Linked DNA regions of Homo sapiens. The protein of the gene in region 4 purifies or fractionates together with the protein of the main gene of each other region. This does not show direct contact. Each region holds a gene or a part of one and is shown on either strand. Other genes may lie near its edges.

The links.
Region 1: the proteins of CYP3A43 (region 4) and HP purify together in Homo sapiens (affinity purification with mass spectrometry; one large-scale study listed by BioGRID and IntAct). This does not show direct contact.
Region 2: the proteins of CYP3A43 (region 4) and LTF purify together in Homo sapiens (affinity purification with mass spectrometry; one large-scale study listed by BioGRID and IntAct). This does not show direct contact.
Region 3: the proteins of CYP3A43 (region 4) and PRTN3 purify together in Homo sapiens (affinity purification with mass spectrometry; one large-scale study listed by BioGRID and IntAct). This does not show direct contact.
Region 5: the proteins of CYP3A43 (region 4) and FGB purify together in Homo sapiens (affinity purification with mass spectrometry; one large-scale study listed by BioGRID and IntAct). This does not show direct contact.

Annotation. Positions count from the first base shown.
Region 1 is NC_000016.10:72,056,524-72,063,030, forward strand, and holds the end of HP (haptoglobin isoform 1 preproprotein), read left to right. Parts: intron 1-6; coding exon 7-108; intron 109-868; coding exon 869-943; intron 944-1,730; coding exon 1,731-1,832; intron 1,833-2,590; coding exon 2,591-2,665; intron 2,666-3,588; coding exon 3,589-4,367; 3' UTR 4,368-4,532; downstream 4,533-6,507. UniProt on the Homo sapiens protein: As a result of hemolysis, hemoglobin is found to accumulate in the kidney and is secreted in the urine. Haptoglobin captures, and combines with free plasma hemoglobin to allow hepatic recycling of heme iron and to prevent kidney damage.
Region 2 is NC_000003.12:46,454,143-46,460,098, forward strand, and holds part of LTF (lactotransferrin isoform 1 preproprotein), read right to left. Parts: intron 5,678-5,956; coding exon 5,514-5,677; intron 2,257-5,513; coding exon 2,148-2,256; intron 1,837-2,147; coding exon 1,654-1,836; intron 1,301-1,653; coding exon 1,153-1,300; intron 219-1,152; coding exon 163-218; intron 1-162. UniProt on the Homo sapiens protein: Transferrins are iron binding transport proteins which can bind two Fe(3+) ions in association with the binding of an anion, usually bicarbonate. Lactoferricin binds to the bacterial surface and is crucial for the bactericidal functions.
Region 3 is NC_000019.10:844,684-849,478, reverse strand, and holds the end of PRTN3 (myeloblastin precursor), read right to left. Parts: intron 3,333-4,795; coding exon 3,102-3,332; intron 1,730-3,101; coding exon of another isoform or gene 1,709-1,729; exon of another isoform or gene 1,681-1,708; coding exon 1,510-1,680; 3' UTR 1,304-1,509; downstream 1-1,303. UniProt on the Homo sapiens protein: Serine protease that degrades elastin, fibronectin, laminin, vitronectin, and collagen types I, III, and IV (in vitro).
Region 4 is NC_000007.14:99,850,438-99,856,393, forward strand, and holds part of CYP3A43 (cytochrome P450 3A43), read left to right. Parts: intron 1-5,153; coding exon 5,154-5,281; intron 5,282-5,956. UniProt on the Homo sapiens protein: Exhibits low testosterone 6-beta-hydroxylase activity.
Region 5 is NC_000004.12:154,563,555-154,569,510, reverse strand, and holds part of FGB (fibrinogen beta chain isoform 1 preproprotein), read right to left. Parts: intron 3,704-5,956; coding exon 3,512-3,703; intron 3,023-3,511; coding exon 2,839-3,022; intron 1,919-2,838; coding exon 1,691-1,918; intron 1,131-1,690; coding exon 1,017-1,130; intron 330-1,016; coding exon 204-329; intron 1-203. UniProt on the Homo sapiens protein: Cleaved by the protease thrombin to yield monomers which, together with fibrinogen alpha (FGA) and fibrinogen gamma (FGG), polymerize to form an insoluble fibrin matrix. Fibrin has a major function in hemostasis as one of the primary components of blood clots.

The DNA.
Region 1 (6,507 bases), on a different chromosome or scaffold from region 4:
TTGCAGATGACGGCTGCCCGAAGCCCCCCGAGATTGCACATGGCTATGTGGAGCACTCGGTTCGCTACCAGTGTAAGAACTACTACAAACTGCGCACAGAAGGAGATGGTAAGATGTGGACAACTGTCTCCATGCCCTACATACAACCCCCTTCTCTGACATTTCCATGATGGGTGGTGCTGAGGTGATTCGCCAGAAAGTTCGTTGCTCTCCTTGGAGCCAGGAGATTTAGATTCTAATAAGCGTTTTGTCGCCAGTAGCCATGGCCCTTTGGGCAGACTAACTTTTGTCAGCCTCAAGTTTTCTGTTTTGTTAAGGGGAGGCGATGCCATGCAGCCTACCTCATGTAAATCTCAGAGTCACATTTACATCTCCAGCAGATGTGGGAAAAGAAGGAATGCTGATGATGATGTCACCCTCACCTAGTGAGTCTTGCTGTCCTGGCACTGCTCTAAGGGCTTTATACTTATTTGCTCACTTAGTCCTCACAGTATCCCTCTGAACAGAGTTTATTGTTTTCACTTTGCTGATAAGGAAACTGAGGCACAGACAGGTTGAGTATCTTGCCCAAATTCAGGCAGCCTGTAAGAGGCAGAGTCAGGATTTGAACCCTGAGCCCTCCCTGTACTGCTTGGCTGTGACCGCCATGACCACAGTGTGTTCTGCTGGGCTTAACTGGTGTCCAGGCACTTGGCTTCCAGCACAGCACTCTTTCCCTTCCTCCTTCTCATATTCTCTCTCCTTTCTCCCTTCCTGTCTGCCTCCTTTCTTCTTCTTCTTTTTAATTCTTCTCCTTAAATGCCTTCTCACTCTGCTCTGGGTGCAGACTTGACTTTTCCTTTGGCTCATTTCTTGCCTTTTGTTTCAGGAGTATACACCTTAAATGATAAGAAGCAGTGGATAAATAAGGCTGTTGGAGATAAACTTCCTGAATGTGAAGCAGGTGGGTGCTGAGCACTGAGCACTTAAGAGAGCAGGCAGGCGTCCAGCGGGGAACGTCCTAGAGGCACAGCCTTCCAGTGCGGCTTCCTCTGAGCACACAAGAGCCAGGAGGAGGGATGTGGGAGAACCGCAGCTGGCCAGGGAGAGACTTAAGCAGTTAGGTGATGACTCCCTAAGGGTCACCAAGGGTCTTGTTCATTGGGGCCTGAAGGGCACTGGCTGAATCCACTGTCGGCACTGCCCACAGATCAGGAGAGCCTGTGCATACAGAGAGCCTGCTAGAAAGCCCTGGGTCTAAGGAGAAGCAAGCTCCAGGGAGAACAAGTCAAGGAATGACATAAAATCTTAATCCATGGAAGCCTAGCAGGAGGCTGGACATGGGCTGGAACTCCTGCTTCTCGTTATTAGGAGGAGCTGTTGCTCTCTCCTTTCATTCTCAGAACCAGAGGCAAAGACCCAGCCTCTTCTGCTCTTACTGGTGTGGAAATGCCAACCTGCCTCGTATTAACTGCACCATCTACAAAATCTGAGCTCCAGCCAGTGCTGCTCTAGATTCATCTTTCTTTAGAGAGAATGAATTATTGTAGCCCCTAGCCCTTTCAATGAATTTCAGGGAATTGTGGAAATTCCTTTATTGGGATAATTGTTTAAAAATAATACAGTTCGCGAGCTTCTATTCGGGGTGGAAGGAGATTGATGTGCAGAGCAGCTCCCGCTCATCTGACTTTTCACGGTTCACTGGGAACAATTTCCAAATAGCAAACTCTCTGGCTTCTCTCTCTTTGCAGATGACGGCTGCCCGAAGCCCCCCGAGATTGCACATGGCTATGTGGAGCACTCGGTTCGCTACCAGTGTAAGAACTACTACAAACTGCGCACAGAAGGAGATGGTAAGATGTGGACAACTGTCTCCATGCCCTACATACAACCCCCTTCTCTGACATTTCCATGATGGGTGGTGCTGAGGTGATTCGCCAGAAAGTTCGTTGCTCTCCTTGGAGCCAGGAGATTTAGATTCTAATAAGCGTTTTGTCGCCAGTAGCCATGGCCCTTTGGGCAGACTAACTTTTGTCAGCCTCAAGTTTTCTGTTTTGTTAAGGGGAGGCGATGCCATGCAGCCTACCTCATGTAAATCTCAGAGTCACATTTACATCTCCAGCAGATGTGGGAAAAGAAGGAATGCTGATGATGATGTCACCCTCACCTAGTGAGTCTTGCTGTCCTGGCACTGCTCTAAGGGCTTTATACTTATTTGCTCACTTAGTCCTCACAGTATCCCTCTGAACAGAGTTTATTGTTTTCACTTTGCTGATAAGGAAACTGAGGCACAGACAGGTTGAGTATCTTGCCCAAATTCAGGCAGCCTGTAAGAGGCAGAGTCAGGATTTGAACCCTGAGCCCTCCCTGTACTGCTTGGCTGTGACCGCCATGACCACAGTGTGTTCTGCTGGGCTTAACTGGCATCCAGGCACTTGGCTTCCAGCACAGCACTCTTTCCCTTCCTCCTTCTCATATACTCTCTCCTTTTCCCCTTCCTTTTTGTCCCCTTTTCCTCTTCCTTTTAGTTCTTCTCTTTAAATGCCTTCTCACTCTGCACGGGGTCTAGACTTGACTTCTCCTTTGGCTCACTTCTTGCCTTTTGTTTCAGGAGTGTACACCTTAAACAATGAGAAGCAGTGGATAAATAAGGCTGTTGGAGATAAACTTCCTGAATGTGAAGCAGGTGGGTGCTGAGCACTTAAGAGAGCAGGCAGGCGTCCAGCGGGGAACGTCCTAGAGGCACAGCCTTCCAGTGCGGCTTCCTCTGAGCACACAAGAGCCAGGAGGAGGGATGTGGGAGAACCGCAGCTGGCCAGGGAGAGACTTAAGCAGTTAGGTGATGACTCCCTAAGGGTCACCAAGGGTCTTGTTCATTAGGGCCTGAAGGGCACTGGCTGAATCCATTGTCTACATCGCCCACAGATTAGGAGAGCCTGTGCATACAGAGAGCCTGCTAGAGAGCCCTGGGTCTAAGGAGAAGCAAGCTCCAGGGAGAACAAGTCAAGGAATGACATAAAATCTTAATCCATGGAAGCCTAGCAGGAGGCTGGACATGGGCTGGAACTCCTGCTTCTCGTTATTAGGAGGAGCTGTTGCTCTCTCCTTTCATTCTCAGAACAAGAGGCAAAGGCCCAGCCTCTTCTGCTCTTACTGGTGTGGAAATGCCAACCTGCCTCGTATTAACTGCACCATCTACAAAATCTGAGCTCCAGCCAGTGCTGCTCTAGATTCATCTTTCTTTAGAGAGAATGAATTATTGTAGCCCCTAGCCCTTTCAATGAATTTCAGGGAATTGTGGAAATTCCTTTATTGGGATAATTGTTTAAATATAATACAGTTCACCAGCCAGGGCTCAAAAATCTCAGTATTTCCCACTTCCTTTGTTAGAAAAGTGGGAAATAGAGCTTTTTGTAATGTAAACAATTTAAAAAACAGAATTATTTTAAAACTGCAACTATTGGAAATGAGATCAGCAGGTGGTAAGGGCAAAGCATTTAAATCTTTCTACTTTACGCAGCAGTGACAGCCGCCCATGCTTTCACCCCTTTCTCAGATGGAAAGGCTCTTGCACATTTCCACTCACGAGTGTCTTGCTCTCCTTGACAGTATGTGGGAAGCCCAAGAATCCGGCAAACCCAGTGCAGCGGATCCTGGGTGGACACCTGGATGCCAAAGGCAGCTTTCCCTGGCAGGCTAAGATGGTTTCCCACCATAATCTCACCACAGGTGCCACGCTGATCAATGAACAATGGCTGCTGACCACGGCTAAAAATCTCTTCCTGAACCATTCAGAAAATGCAACAGCGAAAGACATTGCCCCTACTTTAACACTCTATGTGGGGAAAAAGCAGCTTGTAGAGATTGAGAAGGTTGTTCTACACCCTAACTACTCCCAGGTAGATATTGGGCTCATCAAACTCAAACAGAAGGTGTCTGTTAATGAGAGAGTGATGCCCATCTGCCTACCTTCAAAGGATTATGCAGAAGTAGGGCGTGTGGGTTATGTTTCTGGCTGGGGGCGAAATGCCAATTTTAAATTTACTGACCATCTGAAGTATGTCATGCTGCCTGTGGCTGACCAAGACCAATGCATAAGGCATTATGAAGGCAGCACAGTCCCCGAAAAGAAGACACCGAAGAGCCCTGTAGGGGTGCAGCCCATACTGAATGAACACACCTTCTGTGCTGGCATGTCTAAGTACCAAGAAGACACCTGCTATGGCGATGCGGGCAGTGCCTTTGCCGTTCACGACCTGGAGGAGGACACCTGGTATGCGACTGGGATCTTAAGCTTTGATAAGAGCTGTGCTGTGGCTGAGTATGGTGTGTATGTGAAGGTGACTTCCATCCAGGACTGGGTTCAGAAGACCATAGCTGAGAACTAATGCAAGGCTGGCCGGAAGCCCTTGCCTGAAAGCAAGATTTCAGCCTGGAAGAGGGCAAAGTGGACGGGAGTGGACAGGAGTGGATGCGATAAGATGTGGTTTGAAGCTGATGGGTGCCAGCCCTGCATTGCTGAGTCAATCAATAAAGAGCTTTCTTTTGACCCATTTCTGTGTTGTGTTCAGTCTTGAGTCTTTTTTATTTGCTCCTTTATGGTCCAGGGTAGTCAGAAGGTATAGAGTCTACTGGGAGTATGGCAGAAAACACCCTAAACCCACTGGAAATCCCGAAGGTGATACAAACTCTTCCACCTTAGGGAATCATGCTCACTGATTGAGTGCCTATTGAATGCTAGGTCCCAGAAAGTTAACTGTTGTCCTTGTTTTACAGACAAGGAAACAGAGACTCAGAGATGGTAAGTGAGTTGCTTAAGGTTACATAGCTATGAAACAGGGAAGCAGAACTTTGAACCCAGGTCTGTTTGATACAAACTCAGAGGTCCTTTCACTGCATGCTGTTGCCTCCTCAAAGTGAATTAGGAGAAAAGGCATGGGCCTGGTTGAGGAAGAGGCTAGCTCAAAATGGGATGGGGAAAAAGTGTTTTAACACAGACAGTACTTCAGAGTTTGGGATCTAACCTACCAGCACTCCAGAAAACAAAAGACAATGATGTAAAGGCAGGATCTCTGGACTTACTGAGTCCAAATCACAGAATGGCCCATAAATTTGCTAAGTAATTTAGGTTTCCTGGCCATCAGTTCCTGGTCTCTTCCATGAAGGACTTGAGCCAGGCGATGGCTAATGTCCCTATCAGCAATAACCTTCTGGTATTCCATAAAGAGTGGGGAGGTAGAGTCCCTGCATCAGTAGAAGCTGCTTTTCCTACTGGGAACAAACCCACCCTGCACCAGGAATCAAATGCAGGCTGTCTGAGCCTCCTCTCCTGATGGCAGGTCATGCTATTAAGGGTCTCCCAGAAGAAAGGTTCTGGAACTCTGAGAAACAGAAGCTCTTCTAACAGAACTTTTTCTTGCTATAAGCTTTCAATACCACCAATCACCAGTGCACCTTCTTCTCATGCCAAAATACGGCCCCTCCTTTGTAGGGTGTAAAACGACACTGATGTCACTCTCTCTCACCAAGGTCTGGCCATCTCTGTGAAGCTCTCCTCACAGGCACCCTGCAGATTCATCAATAAACTTCAACAGGTTAGCGCCAGTAGGCCAATAAGATGCACACTTATATTCTAGAACCTGTGAAAGAAGTAATAGCCAGAAACTGGAAAATAACAGTCAAACTCTTAAAAAAATGCCTCTCAGAACACAGTCACTTACACCTTTTCCTCTGGTAGTTCTCTTCAGCACCAAGTTTCCTGGAAGAACAAGCTACTCCCCAGTTTTCTTAAAGAATTGTCTGATTGTATTAAGTAAGTGGCTTCTGGTAAAATAATGGTAAGAGAAAAGCTCTGGCATTCTCTTGATCACTCATCTTCTCTGCCTTCCTCCCTAGCAACATCTCCTGGCCTCAGCCTGTGGGCTTCAGCAACACCAAACTCCATGTTGCTCTCTGACAAGCCCGGCCGTCTCCAGTTCTTGGGCTTTATTTCCTCGGGGGCCCTCTGCTGAAATTCCCTTCCCCTTGCTGTATTAGCACCTCCTACCCGCCTTCAACATGCAGGCACTGCCTCCTCTAAGGAGCCATCTGTACTTACGTAGCTGTGAGCATAGGATGGGGCATACAGCAGGCACTTAACAAATACTTGTGGAATGGAAAGAAACTAAGATAGGATCAAAAATACAAATCAAGATGTGAGAGAAAGACGATCAAAAGCCCTCACGAGGGGGCTGGGCGTGATGGCTCACACCTGTAATCTCAACACTTTGGGAGGCTAAGGCGGGTGGATCACTTGAGGGTGGGAGTTTGAGATCAGCCAGAGCAACATGGAGAAACCTCGTCTCTACTAAAAATACAAAAAATTAGCCAGGCATGGTGATATATGCCTGTAATCCCAGCTACTCGGGAGGCTGAGGCAGGAGAATTGCTTGAACCTCGGAGGTAGAAGTTGTGGTGAGCTGAGATCATGCCATTGTACTCCAGCCTGGGCAACAGGAGTGAAACTCTGTCTCAAAAAAAACAAAAAAC
Region 2 (5,956 bases), on a different chromosome or scaffold from region 4:
GATCATTTAAAATATGAAAGATCATAAAATCAGAGCTGTGCCCTGTAGGAATCTTGAAAATGGTCTGCCATGAACTTAGGAATCTAATTAGCTCAAAGGTCAGAGTCATGATCAAGTAAGATAAAAGGGGTCAGTACCCACGGCTCATTACCCTGCTCTTACCAAACACTGTGCTCTCTCTGATAAAAGCCACGTCTCCAGCCCCGTCTCTCAGACACCTGTGAAAAGAGAAACCATCAGGGGTAAGCACAGGCAGCCCTCCCCAGCCCCTCCCTGTGGAACAGTAGCCCTGGCACTCAGCATCTATGGGTTTCTACTCCCTGCAGGGCAGGGCTCTGAAGCTTTGGGGCATCCCAGCTGGGAAGGTAGGGGCCCCCTCCAGGTAGATACTGAAGAATGACTCAGGTGCTAGCCAGAGGCCCCCATCTTCTGCTTTGAGGGCTAAGAGGACAAAACTTTTTTCTATATAAAGGAGAGTTTTGAAGCCTCTACCCAAGAGGGTAAAGCCTTAGCATCACTGTTCATGTGGCTGTTTTCCTCAGGACTGAGTGTGCAGGTGTGCCCTGGCCAGTGGGGAAGTGTGGAGGCCTCCCTCTGCAAAAATACGCTAGTGCCAGCAGACAGAATGGGAAAAGGGGGAGCTCAGCCTCCGCGTGGGGGCAGAGAGGATGGGGGCGAATCAGGCATTGCTCACTGTCCTTCAGCCACGGGGAGAGGCCCAGGTGGGCAGAAGGACATCAGCCTGGACACTGCAGCGGTCCTGCCCAACCAGGAGCCAGGACTGGACATCTCATGACAAGATGCCTTCAGTCCTGCTGTGGTTAGGCAGGCGGCAGAAATTAGTATGAGGAACCCAGGACAACAGGGCAGCCAAGTTGGATTCAGGGCTCTCTGAGGTAACAGGAGGGCCCACAGCCACAGTGACTGCCCGTGGGGCTGGTGAGAAGTTGGGGGCACAGTTGGGCCCGGAAGGCTGGAGGGGAACACACACTGGGCAGGCCTGCACTCTCTTTGGACACACAGCAGTAGGAGAACAGACCTCCTCTCGTCCCCAAGAGCAGGCTGGGCTCTATGTGGGGCCAGAGAAAAGGCCTCCCGGCCTGAGGCCAAGGGACACTTGGCCACTGACGAGAAGGGGACAGGGTCACTCACTTGAAGGCACCAGAGTAGCTGAAGTACGGTTCCTGGGAGGAGAAGGCACATTTGTTTTCCCCTGTCCCCGCACACAGGCGACACAGGTTGGGGAACTGTCCTTTATCTGCACCGGGAACACAGCTGGCTGAGAAGAACCTGGCCACAGCTGTTAAACACAGAGAAGTGGACCACAGAGTGTGAGCCAGCCCTGGTCACAGCAGGTTACACCTCCCATCCTGAGGTCTCCGTGGGCAAGGCCCCTTCCTCCACCCCTGCAGGAGAGACTCTGTCATGGGGCTGGGAGCTCGAGACATGCACCTCTGCCGAGAGCAGACTCAGCTGTGCCTCCCAAGGGCTGCTAGGGTAACGGATCCTGCCAGCAGGATGTTACAAGCTGGCCAGCCTCACCCCCACCTTGATTCATCCCACACTTTCACCTGCATGATCTGTGTGGCCTGTGCTTACAACTGGAATAGAGCCCCCTGCCTGAGGCCACTCACTATCCCCCAGCCATCTTACCTGCCTCAATGGGCTCAGGTGGACCCGTCCAATTCAAGAATGGACGAAGTGTCCCTATAGGGACATTCCATCCAGCGGTCCTGCGAAGGCCTGTGTGGCAGGACTTCAGACCTTGCAGTTCGTTCAGCTGAAAGCTGCCGCCCTTCTTCACCACAGCCACGGCATAATAGTGAGTTCGTGGCTCTGCAAAGGGGCAGACAGAATTGAAAGTTCTTAGCCTGGACAAGAGGGACAAAAACAACCCATCCTGAAAAGTCTCCGGTGGGAAGGGGGAATGCTGTGCTGCAGTTTCCTCACAGCTCACGTGTGTCCTCCTCTCGTGGGTCAGCGTCAGGAGGAACGGCCTTCATCTGGCCCAGAGCCCAGCGACTCCATTCCCTACATGTGTGATGTGACCCAGACTCCACCTCCACATGTTCCCCCAGTCTTAATCCACACAGCTCAGGGCACAGGCTGAGGCCACCGTGGCCTCTGGGTCCCCAGGCAGAACTCACGTCTTTCGGTCCCGTAGACTTCCGCCGCTACAGGTCGCAGTTTGTAGGGGGCCAGGCCTGCCTCGTATATGAAACCACCATCAAGGGTCACAGCATCGGCCCTGTTTTCCTGAAAGTAAAGAGGCCAGACTGGCTTCAGCAGAAAACTCACCCAAACCCAGCAAGTGGGACTTCAGGACCTCAAAAAGTCTCCATGGCTGGAAGGGTCGTCAAAGGGGTCCGCTTTCCATCCTGTCCCCTCACTTCCTATGAGAGATGGTGAGAGCCAAGGACCCCTGTTTTGGGACAGTGAGCACCAGCCCTCTAAGTCCTGAGACTGGCGCCTGCCCTCTTTCTCCTCTGCCTGCCTGTGTCACTCTCCCGATCACACCCCTCACAGTCATCTATATTTGAAGTCGTTTGTTCTAGATACTTTCTATTTTTGCTCTATATTCATTTCTTTTAAGTTCTGTTTTATTGGATAGAAAATATAGTTATTAAGCTATCCTAAAATTTTCATAAGAAACCATGTTCCTCCGCTTCAGCACATTGCTTCCCACATGATTACATATTTCTTTGGTTTGCAATGTGGGATAGTTTAGTGGTCCCCAACTTTTTTGCCACCAAGGACCAGTTTCAGGGAATGTAATTTTTCCACAGACAGATGGGGAATGGTTTTGGGATGAAACCGTTCCACCTCTGATCATCAGGCATTGGATTCTCATAGGGAGTGCAACCTAGATCCCTCGCATGCACAGTTCACACTAGGGTTCACACTCCTATGAGAATCTAATGCCGCCGCTGATCTGACAGGAGGTGGAGCTCAGGCAGTCATGCTCACTGGCCCTCTGCTCACCTCCTGGTCTGAGGTCTAGTTCCTAACAGGCCATCAACCGGTACCAGTCCGTGGCCAGGTGGTGGGGACCCCTGGGATACATCATATTTTGTGGACTGCTTATTCCTCTAAAACTGGATACATTTTCTAACTTCTGCAGAGCCTTTACTGATTTTGTAGACAGCATAATGTTTTCTCATAATGTGGGTGTTCTATCGTGTATTGAATAATTTCCCCCAATGTTTAGCATTTAAGTTTATTTCTAACTGTTTCCTGTGAAGACTGTATTTTCATGAATATCTTTGTCCTCAGTGTTTTTCCTTGTGACCACTTGTGTCCTTGGGTAGGCAGCTGAGGGTGGAATCCCCCAGATGAGGAGCACGTTTCCCCCTGTGACCCGGGCTGCCGTTGCCATTCTGCTTCCAGAAGACTTATAATACCAATTCAGAATGGCGCTGACCGTGAGGACCAGCTTCACTCTTGAATCACCAGCAGGGCAGGCTATCATTCTATTAGCTGTTATTACTATAGAAAATGTGAGTACTAACAAATCGCTCAGGTCTGATTAGTAAGGGGAACATCTCACAAGTATTTTTTATTAATTATGAATTCCCTCTTACTGGTAACTCTGTTCATATCATTTTTCTTCTATGATTCTACATTTTTTCCAATTTGGGTTATTCTTTTATTTATTTATTTTTTCGAGCGGAGTCACCCAGGCTGGAGTGCAGTGGTACCATCTCAGCTCACTGCAACCTCCACCTCCCGGGTTAAAGCGATTCTCTTGCCTCAGCCTCCTGAGTAGCTGGGACTACAGGCGTGTGCCACCATGCCTGGCTAATTTTTTTTTTTTTGTATGTTTAGTAGAGATGGGGTTTCACCATCTTAGCCAGGATGGTCTTGATCTCCTGACCTCGTGATCCACCTGCCTTGACCTCCCAAAGTGCTGGGATTACAGATGTGAGCCACCACGCCCGGCCTTGAGTTATTCTTTTATAGAGTGTAAATAGTAATCATGTGTCAGAGCTGGCGCATATTCATTCATTCCAGTCCTTTCTAATTTTTTTATTTAAATATTTTCTATGGGCTATGAATTACATTTTCTGTATTTTAGAATATCTGTTTGTTTCGTGATTTAGATCATCATTTAAGAGATTTCTATTTCCTCTACAGTTCTGCTAGTTAACCTGCCCCCTAGTTTTTCAATAATACAAGTTTTATTTTTAACCATTTAATCTATCTCAACTTTATTTGAATGAATGGTATGTAGTACTGATTTCAAACAGGGATCTTATTTTCCGAGATCAGACGAGATCAGACGCGTTCAGCGTGGTATGGCCTTGGACAGGATCTTATTTTAAAAGGCAGATTTTGTGGCTTCTTTCACATATATTCAGATTGAGTAGGTTAGAATAGAGCCTAGGAATCTGCATTTTAAACAAGCAAGAGATGCTGGTGCTGGTTTTTTGTTTTTGTTTTTTGTTTTTTGAGATGGAGTCTCGCTCTTGTCGCCCAGGCTGGAGTGCAATAGCATGATCTTGGCTCACTGCAACCTCCCCCTCCCGGGTTCAAGTGATTCTCCTGCCTCAGCCTTGTAAGTAGCTGGGAATACAGGCATGTGCCACCACACCCAGCTAATTTTTGTATTTTTAGTAGAGGCAGGGTTTCACCATGTTGGCCATCCTGGTTTTGAACTACTGACCTCAGGTGATCCTCCCACCTCGGCCTCCAAAGTGCTGAAATTACGGGCGTGAGCCACCGCGCCCAGCCACTGGTACTGTTTGTATGCAGGTAATAGTTGTAAAATAATAGCCTAAAACATTGATTAAACTAGATTTTTCCCTAAGTGCTATTCTAATAACTCCATTGTATTTATAAGATAATCCTATGAAGTTGCCTCGGGAACTTTTATGCAAATTATTCACTCTGCTGGAGTTGAGTACACATGATTATGGCACATGGCAGGTACACAGAATATATTTGTTGAATGAATGAGTAAAAATCATTTCAGTAGATCTTACATCTCAAAAAATAAAAGGAATCAGAAATCATATACAAGTCATGATACCCTTTTCTCTCTCTCTGAAAGTGTCTTGGACAAAAGTCTTTCTAACACCCAGCACCCTGGCAGGCCCTGCCCCAGCCATGTGATGTGGCAACGGTGACCAGGACAAGCTTCTTTCTCACAGGGTTTAGAGGTCATGACTCTTTTGGAGGATTTCCCTCTCTGAGTAACTTTGCTTTTTGCTGATCCTATGTATTCATCAAATACAACTGATTACATTTCATTTTGGAACAGTTGTTATTAATGAATAACAGTTGTTATTATAGTTTATGTGGAGGCTCCAGGTTCCTCACACATGGTCTCTTGACTTAAGCTCCTTCCTTTCTGCTCTGAAAATAGCACAGTTCCCTGTGAGAGAGGACGGCTCCCCACTTCGTTGCCCAACAGGTGAAGCAGAGGAAGTAAGGAGAGCTCGTGTTCTATCTTTTTCCATTTCTCTCTCCCTTCCATTCAGCTTGGTCCCAACCAACACCCGGCATTGACTCACCGCAATGGCCTGGATACACTGGATGGGGGAGTCTCTCTTTATGCAGCTGACAGGAGGGCCACGCACTTTTCTCATATTCCTTTGCCATTGGAAGCATTTTGTGGCCTCGGGTTGGGATACGGCGCACCACTGAACACTCCTCCTACGGCCAGCCAGACACAGTCCTGGGAGAGAGGGGCCAAGGAGTAAGGATTCAACCACTGACTGAGGGCGTGACCACCGCACCCTCTGATGGAGTTTTCCAGACTCCTCCCTCTCTCTCGGCTGCCCTCCTTCCCTCTCCATTTCATGGCTATGTCCAGCCATTCTCCACAAGTGGAGGCATCTTGCTGGACTAATAGGATCTCTGCATTGGCTAGAGGTCTGTGGTTCTCAATAAATTAAAGGAGAAAGTCCCTCTAGATTATTTTCATTCCTATGACTTTGACATGTTTCCTACCACT
Region 3 (4,795 bases), on a different chromosome or scaffold from region 4:
ACTAAGAAAATAGCTGGGTGTGGTGGCACCTGTAGTCCCAGCTACTCGGGAGGCTGAGGTGGGAGGATCACTTGAGCCCAGGAGGTTGAGGCTGCGGTAAGCCAAGATTGCACCACTGCACTACAGACTGGGCGACAGAGTGAGACCCTGTCTCAAAAATAAATAAGTAGGCCAGCTGTAAATAAGTAAGTAGGCTCACGCCTGTAAACCCAGCACTTTGGGAAGCTGAGGCGGGTGGACCACCTGAGGTCAGGAGTTCGAGACCAGCCTGGACAACGTGGTGAAACCCTGTCTGTACTAAAAATATAAAAATTAACTGGGCGTGGTGGTCTGTGCCTGTAGTCCCAGCTACTCCGGAGGCTGAGGCAGGAGAATCGCTTCAACCCGGGTGGCGGAGCTTGCAGTGAGCCGAGATCACACCACTGCACTCCAGCCTGGGTGACAGAGCGAGACTCTGTCTCAAAAAAATATTAAAAAGAAAAAAAAAACACCAGCAATGAGCTTCATTTCTTCTCTACACGTGTCCTGGAGCAGGTCGTCCCCTCTCTGTGGCTAATGCCTCCTTCTAGTGGCCACTTGCCCGTCTTTGAGCTGGACTGTGAGTCCCACCTCTTCCCCGCCTCGGACCTCCCCTCTGGCCACCCCCCCACCCAGTTCATTGCTCATGCTTCTACCAGGGAACTCCTGCCCTGCCTACCCCTCCTACGAGAAATAGCGCTCCAACCCCATTACCCCTCCCCTGCACCCACATCCCTCCCCTGCCTGCCCTCCTCCCCGTCCCCTGGCCTCTAGCCCTCAGGTCTCTGCCTGGACTGTGCCCCCTGCCTGGCAGCCCTTCGGATGTTTCTGTTCACACCTTGATATGCAGCTCTGGCACTGCCACCTCCTCCAGGAAGCCCCCCAGGCTGCTTCCCCATCCCCATCCCCTTCCTCAAGGAGTCCCTGAGCCAGCAGGGACAGTTCTAGGAAACGTCTGGGGCGAGTCCATTTTCCAGATGAGGAAACTGAGGCACGGAGATGAATAACAACCTGCCCAGGGCCACCCTGATGGGGCCGGGTTAGAACCCACAGCCACGAGCATCCAGGAGAGAGACCCCCTGCAACCTGGGCCCCCATCCCCCGCTCCGACTCCCCCCATCCTGAGTTTGGGGCTCGGGGACTTGAACCCAGGGGACCTCTCCCTGGTTCCCTCCCTATATGGGAAGGACAGACAGGAGCCAGGGGGAGTTTCAACGTTTATTGAGGTCACGGTGGGCAGTTCCCCCTCCCCTCCCTATATGGGAAGGACAGACAGGAGCCAGGGGGAGTTTCAACGTTTATTGAGGTCACGGTGGGGTGAGGTGCAGGGCCGGCCTGTCTCCCGGAGCCCCGTGGGAGGGAGTGTGGGGGGACGGGTGGGGCCGTCCCGGACGCCACAGTGTTCGGGGAAGAGCTGCTTCTGTCCAAAGATCCGCCTCGAGGGTTTGGAGCCAGGCTCGGGGTCCCGGCCAGCGCTGTGGGAGGGGCGGTTCAGGGGCGGCCCTTGGCCTCCACACGGCGCAGCGTGGAACGGATCCAGTCCACGTAGAGGGCTACCCGCGTGAAGAAGTCAGGGAAAAGGCGGGTGGCACATCCCCAGATCACGAAGGAGTCTATTCCTTGGATGATGCCATCACAGATCAGGGGGCCACCTGAGTCTCCCTGGAGGACAGGGACGGCCAGTCACCCATCAGGGGCCACCTGAGTCTCCCTGGAGGATGGGGACGGCCAGTCACCCATCAGGGGCCACCTGAGTCTCCCGGGAGGATGGGGACAGCCAGTCACCCGGGCTGGCCCCAGGCAGCCAGGAAGGGGGCTGGGGTAGCCACAGCTGTTTCAGAATAAAATGCTTCCAATATGGAACTTTCTTTCTTTCTTTCTCTCTCTCTCTCTCTCTCTCTCTCTTTCTTTTTCTTTCTTTCTTTCTTTCTTTCTCTCTTTTTCTTTCTTTCTTCTTTCTTTCTCTCTCTATCTCTTTCTTTCTTTCTCCTTTTGTTTTGTTTTGTTTTGTTTTTGTTTTGTTTGCGACAGAGTCTCGCTCTGTCACCCAGGCTGGAGTGCAGTGCCGTGATCTCGGCTCACTGCAACCTCTGCCTCCCGGGTTCAAGTGATTCTCCTGCCTCGGCCTCCCGAGTAGCTGGCTGTCTTTCTCTCGAGACAGGGTCTCGCTCTGTTCTCCAGGCTGGAGTGCAGTGGCACAATCATAGCTCACTGCAACCTCGAACTCCCCAGGCTCAAGTGATCCTCCTGCCTTAGCCTCCTGAGTAGCTGGGCCTACAGGCTCACATCACCATGCCCAGCTAATATTTAAATTATTTGTAGAGATGCCACCCTGCTATGTTGCCCAGGCTGGTCTTGAACTCCTGGACTCAAAAGATCCTTCCGCTTTGGCCTCCCAAAGTGCTGAGATTACAGGCGTGAGCCACCACTGCTGGCCTGGAATTTTCTTTAAAATGTGTGAGCACCAGCCAGGCATCACTTGATGCCAGGAGTTCAAGACCAGCCTGGTCAACATGGAGAAACCTCATCTCTACTAAAAATACCAAAAAAATTAGCCAGGCACGGTGGCAGGTACCTGTGCACCTAGTTACTCAGGAGGCTGAGGCAGGAGAATACCTTGAACCTGGGAGGTGGAGGTTGCAGTGAGCTGAGATCTCACCACTGCACTCCAGCCTGGACAACAGAGCGACACTCCGTCTCAAAAACAAACAAAAAGTGTGAGCAGGGAGGGGCTGAGGTCTTTCGTAGGAACTGGGCATTTATGGGCCTCCCGCTGGATACCTGGAGTCCTGGATTCTGGAAGGGGCCGCCGGTGAGGGCGGATGGGTCTCCCACACCTTCCTGTGGTCCTAGAGGGGAGTGGGGGGCAGGGAACCCCCAGACCCACCCAAGCAGCCAGGTGCAATGTGAGCGCCCCCACCCCGCTGAGCCTGCCCGTTGGGTGTTGGGTGTGCCCACCTTCCAGGTGGGGAGACTGAGGCACAGCATGAAGCCACACAGCTAAGAGGTGGCGTGGAACCCTGGCCGCCGCCCTCCTCCCCTCATGGCAGCCCGGTGCCCGGGGTGGGGGCACGGTTACTTACGAAGCAGATGCCGGCCTTGCGGCGAGGGACGAAAGTGCAAATGTTATGTGGCCGGCAGAAGAAGGTGACCACGGTGACATTGAGCTCCTGCAGGACCTGGGCTGGGGGGTCGTGGGCACCCACGCGGCCCCAGCCCATGGCCAGGCACTGGGTGCCGTGGGGCACTGGCTGGTCCTGCTGTGGCAGCTGGACTGTGGCGACGGAGGCACTGAGGTTGGCTGGGCTGCTCAGCTGGGGCAGAAGGCAGGCGGCGGTGAGACGCTGCTTCCAGGTCACGGTGGCCGCCCGGGCCGCCCTCCCACCACACCCACCACACCCACCACCTCAAAACGCCGCGGATGCCGCTCCCTCCGCCTGGGCCCCACGACCCCCTTTGTCCCATTTGTCACTATTGTATTCATTCATTTTCTTTCCTTCTTTCTTTCTTTTGAGATGGAGTCTTGCTCTGCCACCCAGGCTGGAATGCAGTGGCGTGATCTCGGCTCACTGGAACCTCCCGGAGCCATCCCATTGGGTGAGGTGGCCAGCCTGGTCTCAAACTCCCAACCTCAAGTGATCTGCCTTCCTCAGCCTCCGAAAGTGCTGGGATTACAAGTGTGAGCCATAGTGCCCGGCCATTCATTCATGTTTTCTTTCTTTCTTTCTTTTCTTTTTTTTTTTTTTGAGATGGAGTTTCGCTCTTGTTGCCCAGGCTAGAGTGCAGTGGCACAATCTCGGCTCACTGCAACCTCTGCCTCCTGGGTTCAAGCAATTCTGCTGCCTCAGCCTCCCAAGTAGCTGGGACTACAGACACCTGCCGTCACGCCCAGCTAATTTTTGTATTTTTAGTAGACACGGGGTTTGCCATATCGATCAGGCTGGTCTCAAACTCCTGACCTCAGGCGATCCGCCCGCCTCGGCCTCCCAAAGTGCTGGGATTACAGCCACCGCCCCTGGCCCATTCATTCATCTTCAAAGCACTTTTTTTTTGAGATGGGGTCTTGCTCTGTCGCCGAGGCTGGAGTGTGGTGGCATGATCACAGCTCACTGCAGCCTCAACCTCCTGGGCTCAAGTGATCCTCCCATCTCAGCTCATGAGTGGCTTGGCGTGTGCTACCATGCCCGGTTGATTTTTAAATTTTTCTTTTGTAGGCTGGACGCGGTGGCTCTCTCCTATAATCCCAGCACTTTGGGAGGCTGAGGAGAGCAGATCACTTGAGGTCAGGAGTTCGAGACCAGCCTGGCCAACGTGGCAAAACACCGTCTCTACTAAAAATACAAAAATTAGCCAAGCGTGTTGGTGCATGCCTGTAATCCCAGCTACTCAGGAGGCTGAGGCAGGAGAATTACTTGAACCTGGAAGGCAGAGGTGGCAGTGAGCCGAGATTGCACCACTGCACTCCAGCCTGGATGACTGAGTGAGACTCTGTCTAAAAAAAAAAAAAAAAAAAATGTCTTTTATAGAGATGGGGTCTCACTAGGTTGGTCAGGCTGCTCCCAAACTCCTGGCCTCAAGTGATCCTCCCATCCCAGCCTCCCAAAGTACTGGGAGTACAGGCGTGAGCCACAGTGCCCAGCCCCAAGCACTTACTGAGCACCACCTGTATGCCCAGTCCCGTTCTAAGCCACATGAGTCCAATAACGAACAACACAGACAAAAATCCTCTGCCCTGGGGAGCTGATCTTTCTGGGTGGGAGGAGGCTAGGAGGGCCCC
Region 4 (5,956 bases):
TTTTAGTAGAGACGGGGTTTCTCCATGTTGGCCAGGATGATCTCGATCTCTTGACCTTGTGATCTGCCTGCCTCAGCCTCCCAAAGTGAGCCACCATGCCCTGCCTTCCTCACCTTTTTTATGTTGCCCAGGCTGGTCTTGAACTCCTGGCCTCAAGCCATCTTTCTGCTTTGGCCTCCCAAAGTTCTGGGATTACAGGAGTGAGCAACTGCACACAGCCCCAAAACCCCCCTCAGCTTTAAGCAACCACTAATCTACTTTCTGTCTCTAGATTTGCCTAATCTAGCACACATCATATAAATTGAATCATATAATATGTGGTCTTTTGTGACTGGCTTCTTTCATTTAGCATTACATTTTCAAAGTTAATTCATGTTGAAACATGGATCAGTACTTCATTTCTTTTTATGACCAAATAATATTTCATTGTATAGATATGCTGCATTTTGCGCTAGGTGTAGTGGCTCATGCCTGTAATCCCAGCACTTTGGGAGGCCGAGGTGGGCAGATCACAAGGTCAAGAGATCAAGACCATCCTTGCCAACTTGGCGAAACCCTGTCTCTACTAAAAATACAAAAATTAGTCAGGCATGGTGGCGGGTGTCTGTAATCCCAGCTATCAGGAACCTGAGGCAGGAGAATCACTGGAACCCAGAGGTGGAGGTTACAGTGAGCTGAGATCGCACCACTGCACTCCAGCCTGGTGACAGAGCAAGACCCCGTCTAAAAAAAAAAAAGATATGCTGCATTTTGCTTATCCATTCATAGTTGATGGACATTTGTGTTGTTTCTACCTTTCAACTATTGTGAATAGTGCTGCTGTGAATAGTTGTTTACAAGTTTATGTTTGAATACTTGATTTTTCTTCTTTTAGGTATATATTCAGCAGTGGAATGGAGGCGTTTTATAGTAGTAATTCCATGTTTCACTTCTTAAGGAGTTTCTAAACTGTTTCCCACAACAGCTGCACCATTTTACCAGGAGCATATAATGGTTCTAATTTCTCTACATTCTTGCCAACACTTGGTTTTCTCATTTGTTTATAGACACCTTACTACATGTGAACTGGTCTCATCGTGATTTTGATTTACTCTTCTCTAATGGCTAATAAAATTGAGCAACATTGGCCATCTTTATATCTTCTTTAGATAAATGTCTGTTCAAGTCTTTTGCCCATATACAGCTGAATTCTTTTTGTTAATTGGTAAGAGTTCTTTACATATTCTACATACAACTTCCTTCTCAGGCATATGATTTGCAAAATTGTTCTCCCATTCTATACATGTCTTTTTACTTTCTTGATATTGTTCTTTGAACTTTATCTTCTTTGAACTGTATCTTCTTTGAACTTCTTTGAACTTTAATTTTGATGATGCACGATTTGCGTATTTTTCTTTTATTGCTTATCCTGTAGGTATCAAATCTAAGAATCTATTGCCAATTGTGAGCTCATGAAGATTTGCCCTCTTGGTTTTCTTTTAAGGGTTGTATAGTTTTAGCTCTTCTGTTTAGGTCTTCGATGCATCTTGATTTTCATTTTATATGCCGTGTGACGTAAGAGCCCAGCTTTATTCTTACACTTGGCTATCCAGTTGTCCTAGGACCATTTGTTGAAAAGACGATTTTGTCCCCATTCAATGATCATGACACCTTCCTCAAAATTCAGTGGACCAGAGACATGTGGATGTATTCTGGACTGTAAATTCTATTCTGTTGAACTATACTTCTATCTTTATGCCAGTATCACATTGTCCTGATTATTAGAGCTTTGTGGTAAGTTTTGAAATTGGGAAGTATGAGTCCTGCAACTTGATTCTTTTTCAACATTGTTCTGGCTACTCTGCATCCCTTACAATTCCAAATCAATTTTAAAATCAACTTGTCAATTTCTACAAAGAATCTAGCTAGGATTCTGATAATACATTAAATCTGCAGATCCATTTGAGAAGTATTGCCATTTTGACCTTTTTAAGTTTTCTAATCTGTGAACACGGGGTGGTGATTCCTTTTATTTAGATACTCTTTCATTTATTTCAACAGTGTTTTGTATTTTTCAGAGTCTGGGTTTTGCACTTTTGTTAATGTTATTCCTGATAAGTGTATCACTAATATTTTGATGTTATGGTAAATACAATTTTTTAATTCCACTTTTGGATTGTATATTGTAACGTACAGAAATACAGTTTATTTCTGTATATTGACCTTCTATCTTCAAATATTTCTGAACACATTTGTTAGTTTTAATAGGTAAATAGAAGTGCTGAGAGAGGTATCCTTGTCTCATTCATGATCTTAGGGGGAAAGGTACTAAGTATGGTTAGCTATGGGTTTCATAGATGCCCTGTATCAGGTGGAAGAATTCTCTTCTATTTTTAGTTGCTGAGTGTTTTTATCACAAAAGTCTTTTGGATTTTTGTCAAATGCTTTTACTCATACTGAGACGATTGTGTGTTTTCATTTAATTGACATGGTATATTACACAACCTTGTTTCCCTGGGGTAAACCCCTCTTGGTTATGGTATATAATTATTTTTATATGTTGCTAGATTGATCCAGTTTGCTAGTATTTTGTTAAGGATTTGTGCATTTATATTTACAAGATATGTTAGTCTGTAGTTTCTTTATCCTGTGATATATTTTTCCAGTTTTAATATGATGGTAATACTGGCCTTATAGAATGAATTTGGAAATGTTCCCTCATTTCCTAGTTTTTGAAAGTGTTTGTAGAATGGATATTAATTCTCCTTTAAATATTAGGTAGAATTCATTATTGGAACTATCTGGCCTGGCCTTTTCTTTGTGGGTAGTTTTGATTACTGATTCAATGCCTTTATATGTTATAGATCTATTCAGATTGTCTGTTTCTTTCCAACTCAGTTTCTGTAGTTTGTGTCTTTCAAAGAATTTATCCATTTTACCTGTTATCTAATTTATACAATTGTTCTAATAATAAAATTGTTAAGAGAATATCCTTATGCTAATTTTTATTTTTCTTAAATGTCAATAGTAATTATTTCCCTTCTTTTATTTCTGAGACTAGTAAACTGAGTCATCTCTTATTTCTTCATCAATGTAGCTAAAAGTTTGCCAATTTTGATGATATTTTCTTTTGTGGTAAAATTTGAGCTTTTTTTTTGAGATGGACTTTTGCTCTTGCCGCTCAGGCTGGAGTGCAATGGCACGATGTTGGCTCACTGCAACCTCCACCTCCTGGGGTCAAGCTATTCTCCTGCCTCAGCCTCCAGAGTAGTTGGGACTACAGGCATGCAATACTATGCCCGGCTAATTTTTGTATTTTTAGTAAAGACAAGGTTTTTACTGTTGGTCAAGCTGGTCTCGAATTCCTGACCTCAGGTGATCCACCTGCCTCGGCCTCCCAAAGTGCTGGGATTATAGGCGTGAGCCACCGCGCCCAGCCTTGAGCTTTATTTTTTATTTTTAACTTTTGTGGATACACAGTTGGTGTATGCATTTATGGGGTACACGAGATGGTTTTGATACAGGCATGAAATGTGAAATAAGAGCATTATGGAGAATGGGGAATCCATCCCCTCAAGCATTTATCCATTGAATTGCAGACATTCCAATTGCACTCTAAATGATTTTAAAATGTACAGTTATTATTGACTGTAGTCACTCTGTTGTGCTATCAAACCATAGGTCTTATTCATTCTTTCTAACTATTTTTTGTAACCTTTTATTATCCTTACCTCCCCCGCCCCCACTACCCTTCCCAGAGTCTGGTCACCATCCTTCTACTCTCTATGTCCATGAGTTTTGAGTTTTGATAATTTTTTTTTTTTTTTGAGACAGAGTCTCAAAAAAGTTGCGTGATCTAGGCTCACTGAAACCTCTGCCTCCCGGGTTTAAGCAATTCTCCTTTCTCACCCTCCTGAGTAGCTGGGATTACAAGTGTCCACCACCATGCCCAGCTAACTTTTGCATTTTTAGTAGGGACGGGGTTTTGCCATGTTGGTCAGGCTGGTCTAACTCCTCACCTCAGGTGATCCACCCGCCTCAGCCTCCCAAAGTGCTAGGATTACAGGCGTGAGCCACCGCGCCCGGCTGATGATATTTTCAAGGAACCAATTTTTGGTTTTCTTTATTGCTTTTAAATCTGTATTTCATTAGGTTACACTTTAGTTTTTATTATTTTCCCCCTTTCTGCTGGCTTTAGTTTTACTTTGCTCTTCATTTTTCAGTGTGTTATGGTATACATTTAGGTTATTGATTTGAGATTATCTGACATTCACAACTATAAATTTCCCTCTGAACATTGCTTTGGCTACATCCCATACGCTTTGGCATATCATGTCTTCATTTTTCTTCATCTCAAAACAATTTCTAATTGTCCTTTTGCTTTCTACTTCAGCTCATTGGTTACTTAAAAGTGTATTGTTTAACTTCCACATATTTGTGAGTTTTCCAATTCTCTTTTCTCTCTCTCTCTTTTTTTTTTTCTTTCGAGAGACATTTTCATTCTGTCACTCAGGCTGGAGTACAGTGGCACAATCTCAGCTCACTGCAACTTGCGCCTCCCTGGTTCAAGCGATTCTCATGACTGGGTCCCAAGTAGCTGGGACTACAGGCACATGCCACCATGCCCGGCTAATTTTTGTATCAGTAGAGATGGGGTTCCGCCATGTTGGTCAGGCTGGTCTCAAACTCCTGACCTCAAGCAATCTGCCTGCCTCAGCCTCCCTAAGTGCAATTCTCTTGCTTTTATTGATTTCTAGTTTCATTCCATGGTAGTTGAAGGACATTTGCCGTATTGTTTCTATCCTGACTACTATTTCATGGAAAAACATGATTCATTAAAGCAGCAGGCTATCCAAAGAGACTCTAGTCCAGTAGATAAAGGCTAAGAAGTCAGGGAATTTAATTCTGTTCCTTTGGTCACTCTGAAGATGCAGAAGGGACCACTGATCTCACTGCTATAGTGGAGGCCCCTATGTGTGGATCTGCTCTTGCTCAGCCATTGGCATGGAAGAGGGGCAAAGGTCATACAGGAAGAGGGGCAAAGGTCATACAGGAAATGGATCCTGGTTGAGAACCCTGAAGTCTATAGGTAGAGAAAATTGTAATTGTTGTAGGTAAATTTCACATTTTTCACTATGATTTATTTTTTCTTTTTCTATTTAATTTTCCTATAGCACTCTTTCCATTTCTTACCCCAGTTTTTGAAGCCCTAAATATCGGTTTGTTTCCAAAAGATGTTACCCATTTTTTAAAAAATTCCATTGAAAGGATGAAAGAAAGTCGCCTCAAAGATAAACAAAAGGTAAAATCTGGTGGTGGTGACATGAGAATGTTCACTTTTTTATTATATTTTTGGGCTGTTTACATACGATTTGTGCACTTATCTGTGTTTTTTAAAGGCAGCTAGAGAACTTTAGACCAAGAGGGTTTTTACATTTTGCTGGGAATAAAGAAGGTGAAGCTTGGGGAAGAAAGAGAATGAGTGAAACAGCATTTGGAATTTAATAATAGGCATGACTTTAGTATATTATGGCATAAATAATGTAGAGATAGAAGCTTTACCGCTTCTCTTCCTTTCAGTAAATTGTCAATAAATTTGACTGTATAAAGTTGCCAATAAATCTGACTGGATAAAAATGACTGATAAAATTATTTTATGGGTATTACAATTTCCCTAGTTCTTATATTAGTAAGGAATCATTTCAAGTCCAAGCCTGTTATTTTTACACCTTCTTCAGCAGGAGTCCCTACCAGGCTACCTGCAGAAGTAAGTGTATGTTAAATTTCAGTCCTGTCATAGCCTGGACTGGGCAGGGGTCTTCTCTGGGCATTGTGGGTGCAAGCTGACTGATCCAACTTTGCCTTTATGAGCCCTGGAGACCAGCCCGATGATGATGCCTCAAAGTCAGGAATGCAGGACTGGGTCCCCTAGGTGACACTGAACGTTGTATAGAGTTCTAGGAGTGGGGAGTATTTG
Region 5 (5,956 bases), on a different chromosome or scaffold from region 4:
AAAGAAAAACAAAATAAAATCTCACCAAAAATAAAATTTTGGGAAACTAAAAACTGCCTTTCTTCCCTTATCTTTAGCTTCCACATTTTTGTCAGGAAACTCCTCTTAACTGCCTAAAACAGGCTTCCAACAATGAATGTTTTTTAATTAAAAAAAATCCCATTTCAAATAGAATGATTTTATTTTGCATGCCTGTTCGTTACCTGGTAGGCCACAGTAATTCTTCCCATCTGTGTTGGTTGCAACATTTCCAAATCCCTGTTTATATGGATCCCATTTCCTGCCAAAGTCAACACTACCGTCTTGACGGTTCTGAATCACTGTCCATCCTTTGGTTGACAGAAACAAAAAGAGCATATATTAACCAACAGCAAATAATGTCACTTTGAAAATAATATCTGAATCCCCTGTCCATTCCATTTAGTATATATTTGGTGCTCTAAAATAGACACAATAAGGAAATAAATATGAGAGGTAAACTTGTAAAATCTTTGGAAACTGCAAGTGCTTTATCTTACCCCAAATTGTGAATTATAGATATTTTATAACTTTTTAAATATCAGGTTGAATTCCACATCAAATTACTCTTTGTCAGCTATGTTAGATGTTAGAGCTAAGTCTTGTTTCCTGGCTTTTTAATTAATTTTTTTTTTTGAGACAGGATCTCACTATCCTCTGTTGCCCAGGCTACAGTTCAGTAGCATGATCAAGACTCCAGGTTGTGGGCTCAGGTGATCTCCCATCTCAGCCTCCTGGATAGCTGGGACTACAGGCACATACTACCAACACAGCTGATTTTTTTTTTTTTTTGGTATTTTTTTTTTTTTTGTAGAGTTAGGGTCTCATTATGTTGCCCAGGCTAGTTTCAAACTCCTAGGCTCAAGCTATCAGCCCACTTTGGCCTCCCAAGGTGCTGGAATTACAGGTATGAGCCACCACACCTGGCCTTGTTTCCTGGCATTTTACGGTATCCAAATAATTACAGATCAACAGGTCAACAACTGTCGAAAGCTTACCTCCATTTTCTGTATTCATGTCACAGTATACTCTATACGGTTTGACAGAACTGTCAGGTTGAATGAGATACATTTCAGATGTTTCACCTCCTTTCCTGATAATTTCCTCACATTCTGCAAATGTAAGACAACATTATGTTCAGGGGTTTATGACATAATTACTTTGTATTTAGTCACCAATTCTTTAAAATAACATTACATAAGTTACTAAGGAGTGTGTTATTATAGACCTTTGAAAATAATATAACAAATATTAGATTTTCATTTTACTTTAGTAAGTCCAACCCAGTTTTGAGGACGTTTATCTGCTAAGAGGATGAACAAAGCTCTTCTCCACCTTTTGTGTCCTGGAATATCCATGAGCTCCCAGAACACACAAAATGGAGAAACTTCTACATCTATCTGTGGTTCTGCCATCTGTTCAAGCCAGTACGCAGATGCACACATCAGCCACCCCTGGGACTACCTGTGCCCCATCCTGCTCATCAAAACCAGCAAATGCACCAGGCCAGTCCAAAACACAACTGGCTAAGGATATTTTTATGATGTACTGTAATGTCATTATGATCTGTTGGGAAAATCCACTTAGCATTTTTGTTGTTGTTGTTGTTCTCTTATTTTTGGTGTGTGAGTTCTTCTGGAACTCTCTAAAAATATGTTTATGAATCAGTTACCTTTGCCAGACACCACAGGAATATTGCAACTGACAGTGCATGGGGTGCGACAATATTCCATTTGAGCTGAGACATCAGATTCTAACTTTTGTATTTTGCTTCTCAGGTTTTCCAGGATTGAACGAAGCACACGAAGGTTAGTTGGGATATTGCTATTCACAGTCTCATCTATATATAATTGGTGCTTTTCCAGTTCTGAGGAGTACTCATTGACTACATTTTCATTATCTGGAAAAATGAAATTATGTAGAAATAGTTAGCATTTTTGCCTCATAAAACTAATGTATTTAACTATACAATTTTGATTTTCTGAGAATAAACTATTAAACACTGAGCTATCACCAAGCAGTTATGATATATAGTCATATTTAGTGGAAATGATTTGGCGCATGACATATACAAATTAACATAAATCCTAACCACCATACTAGTAATTTACCATAGGTATACGCTAAAGATTGTGTCCAGTAATAAATGAAATAGGTTGTTTATTTCTTTGGTGAGGGAAAAGAGGAGAAAGCAGTATTGGGGTCTTCCATCTGAGAAGTTCAATCTTACAGAGTGGATATGCTTGATTTATTTATCCATTTCACATAAGTATAGCAGAACCTTGAAATTTATAAGATGTCATGATTCCTTTGATTTCTTTGAAAAATTTCCAACTGTGGGTATGCTACTCACTGAGATGCCTGTGCCAGGCTCACGCACTAGCTGTTTCCTGACCACCAAGTCAACAGCACTCAACATTCTGACCTCAAGATTCACAGGTTAGGTGTCATTATCCACAACACAATTGAATATATTATGGATAACTCTCTCATTCAAAACCTCAAATGTTAAAACTATAAATGCTAGGGGTTTTTTTCCACTCTGTAAATATTATCTTCTGAGTCACAAGTTTCTTGTATACTTAAAATAAGGAGTCATAGTAGAATTTTTCATAGAAAATCACACTTGCTGATGTCAGACTGGGAATAAGAGCTGAATAGTGCTTATCTGGCAAGTTGCAGGGGAAGGTGCCCAAAAGCGTATGAATGCTATTCACTAACCCAGAAATGTTAATCTTCTCACAACCATGCATTCTCGTGGCAGTCTAACGGTTCCAATTTTATAGCTGAAAATCGAATGGAAAGCACAAGGATATCTACCTTTTACTTGCTTCTGCCTCTTTTGCCACAGGTCTTTCAGCAAATACATGTACTGAAAGGAAGAAGAGGAGGTCTGGGAAACAGCTTCCACATTGTTATTTAACTCATCAACACTATTTCTGATTGGCCTTTCCTGTTGTAGCAAAGCCTCTTGCAACTGACATCCTGTAGGACACAACACCCCCTAAAAACAAAGAAAATAGCAGGCATTAGATGAAGGATTTGGGTCATGGACATTTGTTAAAATAGCACATAGGAAAATTCAGCGATACGATTAGCCAACATAAAAATTTATTATTTGGTTTTCTGTAAGACCAGAAATTCGAAAGTCATCATCATACTCTCATAGAGATTTAAAATATTACTTACCCCAGAAAAAATATAATTGGGCTATGAAAATTTTACCAACTAAACAAAGGCAGTGGCAAAATACAAATGGAAAGGTGGCACCCACATATCCTAATTTGAAATTTTGGGCCCAGACCAAAGAAAACAAGAAAGAAAGCCTAAACCAAAGGCCCAATATGTTTATGTTTTGAATTTTATTTCCAAAATAAACAAACAAAATAACAGTGATGGTAATGTGGGTCAGTGAAACATTAGCAGACTGCCATGACTACAGGCTTTCTCTGCATGAGAGAGCCACCACTGCAAGAAACATCAGTGCACCCACCAGGTCTGGGTCAGCGTGAAGACAGCCTCCAGCATCAGGGGCTTTTCTTTCTACTTTCTTTTGAGTGGCAGCTGCTTTGGCTGGACGAGCCCGATAGCCACCTCCACTGATGGGCGGTGGGGCAGGCCTCAGGCTGGGAGCCTCTTCTCTCTTCTTGTCAAGGGGTCGATGACCACGGGCACTGAAGAAACCCTACAAGGAATGAGGCAGAAATATAATACAGAGTGTTATAGAAGATTTGGAATGTAACTATTCCAACACCCTCATTTTATAATTTAGGTTATCACAAGCTTGATAATTTGCTTAAGATCCATCAACTGGCTGGTTGGTGATAGTGAATCTGTAGGTTGCTTACTGTTCAGTAACAGTAGAAAGACCAACTGCACAAAAAAGCTATGATGCAGTGTAGTTTTTAAAGAGAGGCCTTAGGATAAAGCTGTATCAGATTATGAATAGTAATGACCTCATATTCCTAAAACATACATTGGAACTTACGAAATTGTAAAGAATCTATACTGTCAAGAAGAATGAATATTCTCAAGCCACTTGGATTGTTAGATTCCTATGATTATTGTTAATCATTTCCCTACTTTCATTTTTGTGAATTGGTGATTAGACTCCTATATAAACATATTTAAGAGACATTAAAGACTTATTAAAGGTTGATTCTACTTGGAATTTATTTGTAATAAGACAATCTTTGACCCTCATAATGTACTCTGGAGCTCGGCTACTTGTAGGTCTTGACCGTAGGGTTGACTTACAGCTATGAGACCTTGGGCAAGTTGCTTTATCTGTGCCCCAGTTTTCTCATCTGTAAAATAAGTGTAATGATAGTTTGAATCTGCCTTACAAGATTATTGTAAGGATTAAATAACTTATTGCATATGGTACCCTCAGAACAGTACTTGGCAATAATAAGTGCTCATTACTATTTTTACTGGAATCACACATAACAAGTACTACAGTTTAAGTGTCCTCTCCACTTCGAATTTCACTTTTAGTCTTATCTTCTATCAACAAAATTATTTGTTAAACCATTATCTTGAAATTTCTTACATGATTTCTTTATCAAACATTATGATTTTCTTATATTTAAAATAATTCTCAAGGCTTGTGCATTGTAATTAAAATTACTTGCTAACTTAAAATATTATATTAAAGGATAATGAAGCAGAAAATACGCATTGCAATAGGAAAGTTTTGATTTGGATTAACTACATTCTCATTTTTTTTTTTGTCAGTAGCTATACATCCTTTGGAGCTTAATTACAAATTAACAAACGACATGATTTGGAACAACTGAGCAACAACTGAGCTCTCTTGCAATTTTGTGAGTCTAGAAGTCATCAGATGAACTCTATTTGGAATTGCATTGTCATTTATTCATTAGATTATAATATTATTTAACATTTAGTAGGATGGTGCTAAGATTAAAACCCAGCCAGGCTGGTTCCAGATTTTCCTGTTTAACCAGTTGACTATATACATTCTTAATATGTAAAGATTCGGAGGATATATACATATTTCACATTGAAGTCATGGTCCTAGTCAGAGCTTACCCTCTCTAAAACAAATTTTAAGAAATGTGATTCATCTGCTTATTACAAATACAATTATAACAGAGAAAACTATTTTCTTTTTATTTCAGAGTGCCACTAGAGAGGTAGCATGGATGGTCTGGCTTTACTAGAGAAAAGGAAATTTTAAAAAATATTTAAAGAAAGTATATACTTAAAGAAAAACACTTAAAGAAATTATGAAGGCCACTTGTTGAATAATCAAAATCCATTTTAAAGCCTAAACTATTAAACTATCTCTGTGAGGTTTAGTTGATAAGCAGAAATGTGAAAGTGCTTTGCAGAGTACTTTACAAAAATTTCGTCTTACACATTCTTTACATTTTTCTTACCTAATATGATTAACCAGACTTAACCAGATTAACCATATGTTTTTACACACACAACCAGATTAACTATATGTTCTTACATGTAGAGTCTGATAAGTACAACACTCAAGTTCCCTTGAAACTCAATAATGATCCGAAATGAATCACTTCATTTAAATATTATTGTGTATTCTTATTTCTAGTTTAATGATACTATGCTATATGTAAGAAATTTGGCCATGATACGTTTGATGATAAAATTTAAATTTCTTAAATATCCATTGTCCTAAATGCATTTCTGTATTTTTAGTAACTGCAAATTAACAGCAATAAGTCAGCAAAAATAATAGTTGAGGACAAACTGTTCTACAAATAAATAAATTAGACTGAACCGTGTTTCATAACTATTAATAATAACAATACACACTAACTCTAATTTGAACTTTTCATCTGAAAAAAGCAATATTTCATTTTCTATCATTACACTTGATGTATTTTGCTTTTAGGCTTAGTTATAATTTTTATAAATAGTAATCTCAGTAACAATATATATTACC